Regions from separate parts of the Homo sapiens genome. Here all the other regions are reported to be linked to region 2. The links are microRNA targets in miRTarBase. Many come from high-throughput screens and were not tested one by one. Region 2 holds a microRNA gene; each other region holds the end of a gene's coding sequence.

Evidence for each region. The annotated mature microRNA hsa-miR-148a-5p reads AAAGUUCUGAGACACUCCGACU and lies in region 2 at 2,172-2,193, shown strand. An mRNA with a match to its seed (bases 2 to 7 or 8) in the 3' UTR can be bound and repressed. Matches are read on the target gene's strand: a 7mer-m8 pairs with bases 2 to 8, a 7mer-A1 pairs with bases 2 to 7 and ends in A, and an 8mer does both.
Region 1: the mRNA of CDADC1 is a reported target of hsa-miR-148a-5p. Seed matches in the 3' UTR shown: 7mer-m8 at 3,269-3,275.
Region 3: miRTarBase lists ABCA1 as a target of hsa-miR-148a-5p. The part of its 3' UTR that is shown has no 7-base or 8-base seed match.

The regions. Positions count from the first base shown.
Region 1 is chr13:49,290,868-49,295,063 of GRCh38, reverse strand. CDADC1 (cytidine and dCMP deaminase domain containing 1) reads right to left here. Exons shown (of 10, transcript NM_030911.4): 10 at 1,579-3,380. The coding sequence ends at 3,307. Among named protein-coding and RNA genes, the nearest start is that of CDADC1, 45 kb to the right of the region's middle.
Region 2 is chr7:25,947,909-25,952,152 of GRCh38, reverse strand. MIR148A (microRNA 148a) reads left to right here and starts at 2,167; the gene lies at 2,167-2,234. The region is part of intron 6 of LOC105375199 (a long non-coding RNA gene); the gene reads left to right. RefSeq lists silencers at 394-603, 724-943, 1,074-1,213 and an enhancer at 4,057-4,126.
Region 3 is chr9:104,780,749-104,784,992 of GRCh38, reverse strand. It overlaps ABCA1 (ATP binding cassette subfamily A member 1), which reads left to right. Exons shown (of 50, transcript NM_005502.4): 50 at 538-3,987. The coding sequence ends at 678. It also overlaps a transcript of NIPSNAP3B not described here. Among named protein-coding and RNA genes, the nearest start is that of NIPSNAP3B, 19 kb to the right of the region's middle.

The sequences.
Region 1 (4,196 bases), not on the chromosome of region 2:
GCGGTGGCTCATGCCTGTAATCACAGCACTTTGGGAGGCAGAGGCAGGAGGATTGCTTGAGGCCAGGAGTTCAAGACCAGCCTGGGCAACATAGCAAGACCCCTGTCTCTACAAAAAATAAATAAAAAATAAACTAGCCAGGCGTGGTGGCACGTGCCTGTAGTCCCAGCTACTTGGGAGGCTGAGGTGGGGAGGACCGCTTGAGCACAGAAAACAGTCAAGGCTGCAGTGAGCTATGAAGGCACCACTGCACTCCAGCCTGGGCAACAGAGTGAGACCCTGTCTTGAAAAAGGAAAGAAAAAGCTTCAGCAGCAATACAATGAAAATACACACACCTGCGTATGTTCTGCATGACTGGGATGAAGGAAGCCAGGCAAATGCTTACACTTAGCTCCCCTCACAGTAGCATATTCTGTGGCCACTTAGGCAGTAAACAAATGGCAGAGCTATTTTTTTTTTTTTTTTTTTTTTTTACAAATTATGAACTTACCATCATCCTCCCATTCTTTGAAATTTAGAAAGACATTGTATTTTTTGTTTAAGTGTAAGTTCTGATTTCTCAGGCTAAGGGATGAAGACTGGGAATTTATAGATCTGGGTCAAAAGTGCCCCACAGAGCTTCTCCAAACCCAGGCGGGCTCCTGGGGTGGCTCAGCAGTCTGTCTCCATCACTTTTTCCCAGAAATTTGTCTCATTCCCACTGTTTACCTGGCAAACCCCTGGATCCCCTCAGGCCCCACCTCATCACCTCTGCCTCTACAGGGTCCTTTCCATGACTCCCCAGAGTGCTGGTAAATCCTCGTGTGCCCCCACTGTTCCTACAGTTACATCCACAATGGCAGTTCTCAGCCTTAAAGGTCACCAGAATCACCCGCAAGGTCGTGAAACCCCAGCTTGCTGGGCCCACCCTGAGAGGTTCTAATTCAGTAAGCCTAGGGAGCACCCTAAGAATATGCACTTCTAACAAATAGTCTGCTGGTCCAGAGACATTTTTTTCTTTTCTTTTCTTTTAGACTAAGTCTCGCTCTGTTGTCCAGGCTGGAGTGCAGTGGCATGATCTCAGCTCACTGCAACCTCTGCCTCCTGGGTTCATGTGATTCTCCTGCTTCAGTCTCCCAAATAGCTGGGATTACAGGCATGCAATACCATGTCTAGCTTTTTTTTTTTTTTTTTTTTTTTGTATTTTTAGTAGAGACGGGGTTTTACCATGTTGACCAGGCTGGTCTTGAACTCCTGACCTCAAGTGATCTACCCCACTCAGCCTCCCAAAGTGCTGGGATTACAGGTGTGAGCCACGGCACCTGGCCTGAGAATCATTTTTCTTAATTACTTGATTCCATGCTTGTATCTTCCACTTGACTGTGAGTGTCTTAAGATCAGGAGGCATTTCTCACACATCTCATCCCCGCAGTCTAGCAGTGTTTAGCAGTCATTCAATCAATAAACAAATATTTATGGAATGCCTACTGTGTGCCAGGTACTGTTCTAGACACTGGGGTTCAGCAGTTAAAAAGTACACACACACACACACACACACCTCCCTGCCCTCATAGACTTCACCTTCTGAGGCTACACAGTAAACCATCAATGATTATTTATTGAAATCTGACCAGTTGTACAGAAGAAAAAAAATGGCATTATCATGCCTCTCTTAATAGTACTGTGGAAATGCCTATTTTTCCCTTTCTAATCACAGTTTTTCCCACTTGTATGCTTCTTCCTCTGATATCCCATCCCAACACCCAACAGGCAAATCCACAGACCTGGCAATATGCCAGGATTTTGGGTCTTACAAAATATTTACTGATTGATTTATAAAATGTTTGGTGTACATGACATGTTAGTTAGAAACAACAAATCCAAGAGCTGAAGCATGAGAGTTAATACAATAAAGCAATTTGGGAGGTAAGCAATCTCAGTGTTTTTATACTGATAAGAATATCTTAATTCACGGTTTTCAAACTAGCCTTAGTTACCTCTAAGTGTACATCACCTCCTCTCCTGTCCTATCCCATGCCCTCCATCTGTGTAGTGTTTATGGCAGTTCTTGGCTGCCTTGTATGATGACTCTGAACTCCCCATGGTCCTACACAGGCTGCAGTCACAGCCCTGGCATGGAGCCAATGTTTGGATGGTCGTGCGTGTAATTCTGAGAAACTGGTAGGAAGCCCAGTGAGGCCGTGTGATGTGGCGGAAAGGCAGGGAACAAAAGCAGAGGCAAACCTGACCACCGCAGATCCAGGAAGACATTTCTCATGAAGCACCCCAGGCCACCCCTCTCTAACCTAGGAGAGAACAGAAAATGTACCTTCATTTTTGGAATAATTTTCTGAATGTTTCTCAGCAAATAAAAATGTGAGAAATCACAGACAGCAATCTGGAATAGCTGAAATGACCATACTTTCAAGACTTTCAGTATTTATTCTTGAGGTTGGCAAATGTTTTTAAAAGGCTCTTCCTTTTGAAGATCAAAGCCATGAGACAACCTATGTTAATTATACAGAAGGGAAGACTATATGGGGGAGCAGCATTTATTAATGGAATTCTAGGAAAGCTAGTTTCAATATTCCAGACTCAAATATTTCTTCTCTGTTAACATCATAACCAAATTTGAGGTTCACTGTTAGTGATTTCAAGAGTCAGTGATATCAAGCAGCGACACTGTCTCAGAATAACACTCTCTTCCTATTGCTACCCAAAGTCTGTGATAAACAGGACCACAGAATTAACATTTACAAAATATACTTTAAAAATGGAGACAAAGTCCACTAACTTTATTTTTATGAGTCAATTCTAATTAAGTAAATTCTGATTACTAGAAAGCTTTGGGTATAAATGTGATCTTTTGGTTTGCTATACACTGACTCTTAAAAGATGACACTTATTTCCCTGGAGCAGTTTACTAACTGTCACTCTTGTAATTCAAAAGAATTAATATTTCTCAAAAGGTGTGTGATTCCCTGCAGAGGCATGACCTCTTGTGAAGCAGACCCTTTCAAATTGGCTAATATAAAGTCAAGATAAATAGAAATCAGTCCCTGTTGGTGATTACATTGGTTGAAGTTATTGCTCCCTCATTTCGTGTAATAAAATAACACACTACTACATTATGGAAAACCCACACATAAATCTAAAAGACAAATATTCTTATTAACACCATTTGTATCCTAGAAATAAATTAGCTTCCTTAAAAAATCTTTTCAATTATTCACAAAATCCATCCTTATTTTCTGAATGAACAAGGCTGAATTTTAGAAGTGCAATGAAAAGTTCTTGAGGTTCCCCTGCAGTGTAGACAGGCCTTCTTAGTGGATTCCGAGGCGCAGCTTCTTGTCCTGGTGCTGCTCTTCCTTCTGTGGGACAGGTCTCAACACACCATCTAGCATTGAGAATAACGCTAGGTCAGGACAGCTTCATTTCAAACCCATGGGCACTTGTTTCAGCCTTACATGTTGTAAGAGCAAAACAATGCTTAAGTTAAAGGAACTTTCACTTTATTTTATCTTCAAATTCTCAATTGTAGAGAATCCAATCTAGATAACTTACTCTCAGGCAATACAGAATCTGGCTTTTAAAAACTGGATTCACATTGGCCGGGTGCAATGGCTCACGTCTGTAATTTTAACACTTTTGGAGGCTGAGGAGGGAGGATAACTTGATCCCAAGAGTTCAAGACCAGCTTGGGCAGCATAGGGAGACCCCATCTCTACAAAAAAAATTTTTTTTTTTTAAACAGGTGTTGTGGCGCACACCTGTAATCCCAGCTACTCAGGAGCCTGAGGTGGGAGGACTGTTTGAGCCCAGAGAGGCCAAGTCTGCAGTGAGCCATGACTGTGCCACTGCATTCCAGCCTGGGTGACACAGCGAGACCCTGTCTCAAAAAAAAAAAAAACCAAAAACTGAATTCACTCAACAGTGTACGGCAAGTAATTCATAAAACTTTTTGTTTTATGTTTTTGGTGGGGGGACGTCCTATTACTAGACTGGAAGAAATAAAATGTACCTCCTAAGGGAGAAGGGGACTGTGTGTGGGGTAGGGAGAATCTGGGGACTGGAAGGAAGACGGACTTATCTGACTGGGCAGGCTGGGAAAAGAGTATGGCTTCAACCTCTTCCTGGCTTTTGTGTTTAATAGCTTTATTTGTACAATAAATGATACATGTTTAAAGTATGCAATAAACTAAACATAAAGTGT
Region 2 (4,244 bases):
TCTTCTTTGGCGTGCTTGGGGAACCACGTTAAAATTGATTCTACGTGCCCGTGACCTCTTCTCAGGGAATTCTGAGCTCCCCCGAGTCACACCCCCATCTAGATGAGGAGAGGAGGACGTGTCCCCTGGTTCAGTCTCGGGTGCCCAGTACCCAGCAGACGTCAGGGTGGAGGCAAACCGGCCTTTCGGTTAGTCCTTGTAGACGTGTTAAAAAAAAAAATCCAGAACTGGCATTTTTACTACTTTTAGTTAGCTCTTTGGCCTCTTTTTATTTGGGGATGGGTGGTGGGCAGTTTATTAAAAGAAACGACTTTTAACCTTGATGAATTCTTGATTTTGCTTTGTCCTAGAATTCCCTTACCGGGAATCTCGCATTTAGTTCTCAACTCCCTGCCAGGGGAGGAAACTGTCCTCCCGAGGTTTCCATTTCGCACTCTGCCCTGCAGCAGCTTCGCCGCCGCCTCCTCCCCAGCCAGGAGACACCGGGCCCAGGCAGGGCTCCGGCTGGGTTTGGAGGAGGGGGCTCCGGGGAAAGCGGGCATTCAGGGGCATCTTGCAAAACGCGGGCTCCCTGGGCCCAGCGGGGCTGGCCGGGGACAGCGCCCGGCCCGAGTGTCGCGGGAAGCGGAACAGGCAGCCTGGCAGAGGCTGGTGGGCAGAAGGGCGGGGCGGGACGTCGAGCCAGGTGGCCACCTGGAGCGCCCCGCCCTCCCAGCGCCGGCCGCGCCCCCGCCCCCGCCCCCACGCGCCACCGCCCACCCCGCCCCCGCCCCCAGCCCCGCGCGGCCGCTCTATTTGCATAAGGAGGCGTCTCCCGGGCCCGCCCGGGGCGCACGTGACCCCGGGGGAGGCGGAGGGAACCTGCTGACTTGACACGAGCCGCTGTGCGGCTCCCCTTGGCGCGGAATAGCGAGAGCAGCCGTGACCTCCGACCCCGCCCGCCGGCAGCCAATAAGAGCGCAGGTCGTCTCCAAACCCAAAATTTCCACGTCGGCAAAAGTCAAGATGGAAGGGAGCGGAGCGGAGCGCGAGGGGGGAGCCGGCCCGGGAATGCCTGGCGGCCGGCGCTGGAGGGGCAGGCTGGGGAGCCTGCGGCGGGCGCACGAGGGGCCACTCGCGAAGGTGTCCCGGCCCAGCGCGACCACCGCCCCCAACCCCGGGAGCCTCTGGGCGCCCCGCACTCCGCCAGCCGCCCGTGCACCCCGGCCCGGGGGACGCAGCCCACTGCCCCTCCGGCCTTGTCTCTTAGGGGTGGCGGGGGATGGAACGGTGGCGAGGGGTTTGGGGGAAGATGGGAAAGCACTTTCCAGACCTGTTGCACGCGCGCAACAGCTGTTCAGGTGCGGTATGTGGGGGGAGGGGGTCTGCTAGGATGGGGGACAGAGTGGTCGCTTATGCTGCAGGGAAAAGGGGGTGCCGGGAGGGGGAGAAGAGCAGTCTTGGGGACTGTGTGCAAGGTTGTGCGCGAACGGGGTCCGCGGGAAGCACTGCCTAATGGGGCAGGGAGAATCCCAAAGAGTGGGTGGGTGGAACGGAGGGGATGGGACGACTTCGACCCGAGTTCCCGGGGCTGGGCGCGGGCGGCTGGAAGACCGGGAATAGAGTACTGGGAATGGCTGGGGAAGGGGGTCTCAGGGGAGGCCCCGCAAAGCGGGTCTTTCTTGGGTCGTCCCATCTTAGGGGCTTTTCCCGGGCCTGTATTTGTTCCCCACCGTTTAACTCTTTCAGCTCCGAATATTCGTCCTCGTGCAGCGCCCCCGCCCCCAGCTTTCCAGATGGGAAGGTAAAAAGTTGCCACAAGTTAGAGTGAGTTAGCTGCTGGCAAAAGTTTAAATAACTACCGAGGGAGGTGAGGGTTCGACCAGGAATGGGTTCTAATCTGAGGACGGGTAGGAAGGAAGGAGAGTGTGCGATTCTTGCAGCCCCTTTGCTGTGACATTGCGACCAGAATTTGTCGAATCGGGCTGTTAAAACACCATTTCTGTTGGGCATTTGCTCCTGCTGACTGCGGCAGTAACTTTCCATAATTAATGACCCGTTCCATTATCGGTCGCATCCTGAACTAAATTGCTTTTAACGAGTTATTCTTCTTTGTCTTAGCTGGGGGGTGGGGGAACACACCTGCAGGAAGAAACTTCTGGAGGAAGACAGCACGTTTGGTCTTTTGAGGCAAAGTTCTGAGACACTCCGACTCTGAGTATGATAGAAGTCAGTGCACTACAGAACTTTGTCTCTAGAGGCTGTGGTCGCCGATGCCGCCAGTGCTCCAGACGCCAGGCCGAGTGGCCCTGGTGGCCACGTCGCTGCGCCTTTCCCTTGGGGGAGGGGCAAGGCCAGAGGGGGTCCAAGTGCAGCACGAGGAACTTGACCAATTCCCTTGAAGCGGGTGGGTTAAACCCTGTAAATGGGAACAAAATCCCCCCAAATCTCTTCATCTTACCCTGGTGGACTCCTGACTGTAGAATTTTTTGGTTTAAAGAAGAAAAAAATAAAGCTTTGGACTTTTCAAGGTTGCTTAACAGGTACTGAAAGACTGGCCTCACTTAAACTGAGCCAGGAGAGCTGCAGATTTATTAATGGGTGTGTTAGTGTGCAGTGCCTTGCAGGAATTTAAACTCTCTACCCTTAAAGAAGGAAATGTATTTGTACAAAAGCCACAGATAATGGTCCTTTTACTCAAGCGACCTGCTGGATAAATGACAGCCTGCAGGGATTGAGTTTGGAGATCTAGTCTCAATTCTGCTTCCGATTTAGATGCAGTTCACTTTTGTTTTTTAAAGTAAGTTTTATTAATGGAAAGGAAGAACTTTTTCCAAGAAAGCATTTTGAAAGCCACTGGGGGAGGGGGACATTTATGCTTTTGGGCTGTGGAGATCCTTTAGGTGGAGAGACTGCTCTCTCATCCCTAGTGGAATGGAGGTTTGGGTTGGTGAGTTTCTATCAATAGCCTGCTCTCTATAGTGGGTCAGTGACTGGCACCAAATTGTAGTCCTGTTCCATGGACATTGCCCTGTTTTGGTTTTATGAGCTTTTGGCCAGGCACAGGACGCAGGGTGGTAGGGAAAAAAGGAAATGGTTCCTGTGCCCGTGGTGCTGACAGGTAAGGGAAGGGCCTTCTGATGTATTTTATGGGATGCTTCAGAAACCTGGGGGTTGCTTGTGTCTCTGGGAAGCCCTTGGTAAAGAAAGCCACCATTTTTTTTACTTAGGTATATTCCAGTGGTTTATCATCGGGAGAGGGATGATAATGGAGGAAGGCTCAATGAGGGAGAAAGTATTCAGCTGCTTGATGTTAGAGCTTAATGGCAGGACCTACCAGTTGCTTTTCACAGAAATGCTGTGTATTGATCCTAAGGCAGCATGTGTTCTCTTTTGTGTGGCCATTATCCATTCTCCCACTTTTCCATCAGTGACTGCTTTGCTTTTGTTCCTCAATCCTTTACCCAAAAATGGCTGAATTATTTCTGTGCAGTTAAATAAAGTGATCCAAACTCAAGTACGTCTTGTGTTCATTTGAGATGTAAGGTATGCTTACTTGAGGAAGAGGATTCTCTTTCCTAGTTCTTATGTCTGTACATCTCCACAAGATAGTCTGAATATACTGAATTTTAAGAAAACTTAAATCAACTTTGTAAGAGAATGGGAGGTAAAGAGTGGAGCGGTTGACTGGGAGAGTAGTCATCCATACAAAGGAATTAGGTCAGGATCTCTCACCTCCAGAGAAAGGCAAGGTTTGGAGTCCCTGACATGATTCAGTCTGGTTTGACTTCTATGCTTAAGTGATTTGCATTTCTCCTGTTTGTGACCACAAGTGAGTTAAGGACTAACCAAGCAGGAGGGCTGTGGTTTACTCTGGTGCTAAGGATGCCAGGAATAGGAACTGGGAAAATCGGCAGTCTTGGGGTGCTTACTGTAAACCTGGCATGGTCTCATAGACCTCAGTCGTTTAGCAATCAGTGTATTTTCACCTCCCGAGCATCAGGTGTTACTCTAGACGTTACGAATGCAACAGTGAACAAAATAGGCCCCGAACCCTGCCCTCTTGGAGGTCTTTCTCATGCAAGAGGTAGACAATACAAATATAAAATAATCAGAAGGGTGATAAACGTCAGGGAAGGAAGAACAAGGAACGCTGGGGAGGCCGTGGTGTTCATTTAACCCAGATCGCTGGGCAAAGGAAACCATCACTAGCAACCTACTTTGCATGGCCTTGGCACTCCTGTCTTTATTTTAGATACTTTATG
Region 3 (4,244 bases), not on the chromosome of region 2:
GAGCAGTTGGTGATGTAGGGGTGGGGGGCGATATAGAAAGTCAGTTTTTGGCCGGGCGTGGTGGCTCATGCCTGTAATCCCAGCACTTTGGGAGGCTGAGGAGCAGGCAGATCATGAGGTCAGGAGATCCAGATAATCCTGGCCAACAGGGTGAAACCCCGTCTCTACTAAAAATACAAAAATTAGCTGGGCATGGTGGTGCGCACTTGTAGTCCCAGCTACTTGCGAGGCTGAGGCAGGAGAATTGCTCGAACCCAGGAGGTGGAGGTTACAGTGAGCCAAGGTCTCGCCACTGCACTCCAGCCTGGGGACAGAGCAAGACCCCATTTCAAGGGGGGAAAAAAAGTCTATTTTTAAGTTGTTATTGCTTTTTTCAAGTATTCTTCCCTCCTTCACACACAGTTTTCTAGTTAATCCATTTATGTAATTCTGTATGCTCCTACTTGACCTAATTTCAACATCTGGAAAAATAGAACTAGAATAAAGAATGAGCAAGTTGAGTGGTATTTATAAAGGTCCATCTTAATCTTTTAACAGGTATTTGTGAACTTTGCCAAGGACCAAAGTGATGATGACCACTTAAAAGACCTCTCATTACACAAAAACCAGACAGTAGTGGACGTTGCAGTTCTCACATCTTTTCTACAGGATGAGAAAGTGAAAGAAAGCTATGTATGAAGAATCCTGTTCATACGGGGTGGCTGAAAGTAAAGAGGAACTAGACTTTCCTTTGCACCATGTGAAGTGTTGTGGAGAAAAGAGCCAGAAGTTGATGTGGGAAGAAGTAAACTGGATACTGTACTGATACTATTCAATGCAATGCAATTCAATGCAATGAAAACAAAATTCCATTACAGGGGCAGTGCCTTTGTAGCCTATGTCTTGTATGGCTCTCAAGTGAAAGACTTGAATTTAGTTTTTTACCTATACCTATGTGAAACTCTATTATGGAACCCAATGGACATATGGGTTTGAACTCACACTTTTTTTTTTTTTTTTGTTCCTGTGTATTCTCATTGGGGTTGCAACAATAATTCATCAAGTAATCATGGCCAGCGATTATTGATCAAAATCAAAAGGTAATGCACATCCTCATTCACTAAGCCATGCCATGCCCAGGAGACTGGTTTCCCGGTGACACATCCATTGCTGGCAATGAGTGTGCCAGAGTTATTAGTGCCAAGTTTTTCAGAAAGTTTGAAGCACCATGGTGTGTCATGCTCACTTTTGTGAAAGCTGCTCTGCTCAGAGTCTATCAACATTGAATATCAGTTGACAGAATGGTGCCATGCGTGGCTAACATCCTGCTTTGATTCCCTCTGATAAGCTGTTCTGGTGGCAGTAACATGCAACAAAAATGTGGGTGTCTCCAGGCACGGGAAACTTGGTTCCATTGTTATATTGTCCTATGCTTCGAGCCATGGGTCTACAGGGTCATCCTTATGAGACTCTTAAATATACTTAGATCCTGGTAAGAGGCAAAGAATCAACAGCCAAACTGCTGGGGCTGCAAGCTGCTGAAGCCAGGGCATGGGATTAAAGAGATTGTGCGTTCAAACCTAGGGAAGCCTGTGCCCATTTGTCCTGACTGTCTGCTAACATGGTACACTGCATCTCAAGATGTTTATCTGACACAAGTGTATTATTTCTGGCTTTTTGAATTAATCTAGAAAATGAAAAGATGGAGTTGTATTTTGACAAAAATGTTTGTACTTTTTAATGTTATTTGGAATTTTAAGTTCTATCAGTGACTTCTGAATCCTTAGAATGGCCTCTTTGTAGAACCCTGTGGTATAGAGGAGTATGGCCACTGCCCCACTATTTTTATTTTCTTATGTAAGTTTGCATATCAGTCATGACTAGTGCCTAGAAAGCAATGTGATGGTCAGGATCTCATGACATTATATTTGAGTTTCTTTCAGATCATTTAGGATACTCTTAATCTCACTTCATCAATCAAATATTTTTTGAGTGTATGCTGTAGCTGAAAGAGTATGTACGTACGTATAAGACTAGAGAGATATTAAGTCTCAGTACACTTCCTGTGCCATGTTATTCAGCTCACTGGTTTACAAATATAGGTTGTCTTGTGGTTGTAGGAGCCCACTGTAACAATACTGGGCAGCCTTTTTTTTTTTTTTTTTAATTGCAACAATGCAAAAGCCAAGAAAGTATAAGGGTCACAAGTCTAAACAATGAATTCTTCAACAGGGAAAACAGCTAGCTTGAAAACTTGCTGAAAAACACAACTTGTGTTTATGGCATTTAGTACCTTCAAATAATTGGCTTTGCAGATATTGGATACCCCATTAAATCTGACAGTCTCAAATTTTTCATCTCTTCAATCACTAGTCAAGAAAAATATAAAAACAACAAATACTTCCATATGGAGCATTTTTCAGAGTTTTCTAACCCAGTCTTATTTTTCTAGTCAGTAAACATTTGTAAAAATACTGTTTCACTAATACTTACTGTTAACTGTCTTGAGAGAAAAGAAAAATATGAGAGAACTATTGTTTGGGGAAGTTCAAGTGATCTTTCAATATCATTACTAACTTCTTCCACTTTTTCCAGAATTTGAATATTAACGCTAAAGGTGTAAGACTTCAGATTTCAAATTAATCTTTCTATATTTTTTAAATTTACAGAATATTATATAACCCACTGCTGAAAAAGAAAAAAATGATTGTTTTAGAAGTTAAAGTCAATATTGATTTTAAATATAAGTAATGAAGGCATATTTCCAATAACTAGTGATATGGCATCGTTGCATTTTACAGTATCTTCAAAAATACAGAATTTATAGAATAATTTCTCCTCATTTAATATTTTTCAAAATCAAAGTTATGGTTTCCTCATTTTACTAAAATCGTATTCTAATTCTTCATTATAGTAAATCTATGAGCAACTCCTTACTTCGGTTCCTCTGATTTCAAGGCCATATTTTAAAAAATCAAAAGGCACTGTGAACTATTTTGAAGAAAACACAACATTTTAATACAGATTGAAAGGACCTCTTCTGAAGCTAGAAACAATCTATAGTTATACATCTTCATTAATACTGTGTTACCTTTTAAAATAGTAATTTTTTACATTTTCCTGTGTAAACCTAATTGTGGTAGAAATTTTTACCAACTCTATACTCAATCAAGCAAAATTTCTGTATATTCCCTGTGGAATGTACCTATGTGAGTTTCAGAAATTCTCAAAATACGTGTTCAAAAATTTCTGCTTTTGCATCTTTGGGACACCTCAGAAAACTTATTAACAACTGTGAATATGAGAAATACAGAAGAAAATAATAAGCCCTCTATACATAAATGCCCAGCACAATTCATTGTTAAAAAACAACCAAACCTCACACTACTGTATTTCATTATCTGTACTGAAAGCAAATGCTTTGTGACTATTAAATGTTGCACATCATTCATTCACTGTATAGTAATCATTGACTAAAGCCATTTGTCTGTGTTTTCTTCTTGTGGTTGTATATATCAGGTAAAATATTTTCCAAAGAGCCATGTGTCATGTAATACTGAACCACTTTGATATTGAGACATTAATTTGTACCCTTGTTATTATCTACTAGTAATAATGTAATACTGTAGAAATATTGCTCTAATTCTTTTCAAAATTGTTGCATCCCCCTTAGAATGTTTCTATTTCCATAAGGATTTAGGTATGCTATTATCCCTTCTTATACCCTAAGATGAAGCTGTTTTTGTGCTCTTTGTTCATCATTGGCCCTCATTCCAAGCACTTTACGCTGTCTGTAATGGGATCTATTTTTGCACTGGAATATCTGAGAATTGCAAAACTAGACAAAAGTTTCACAACAGATTTCTAAGTTAAATCATTTTCATTAAAAGGAAAAAAGAAAAAAAATTTTGTATGTCAATAACTTTATATGAAGTATTAAAATGCATATTTCTATGTTGTAATATAATGAGTCACAAAATAAAGCTGTGACAGTTCTGTTGGTCTACAGAAATTTACTTTTGTGCATTTGTGGCACCACCTACTGTTGAAGGGTTATAAAGCCATTAGAAAAGTAGAGGGGAAGTGATTTGGATCAAAAGGAAAAACTTTAGAAAAGATTCAAATGTTCCCTTAATCATAAAAGAGAACTGAGGGGACTACTTGAAAATAAAAGGTTGTTTTGTATTTTCATGTTGGTTAAGATACTGAGTAACTGGTATTAAGTGTTAGAGGTTTTTAGATAAATATTCTGCTTAATGATTATG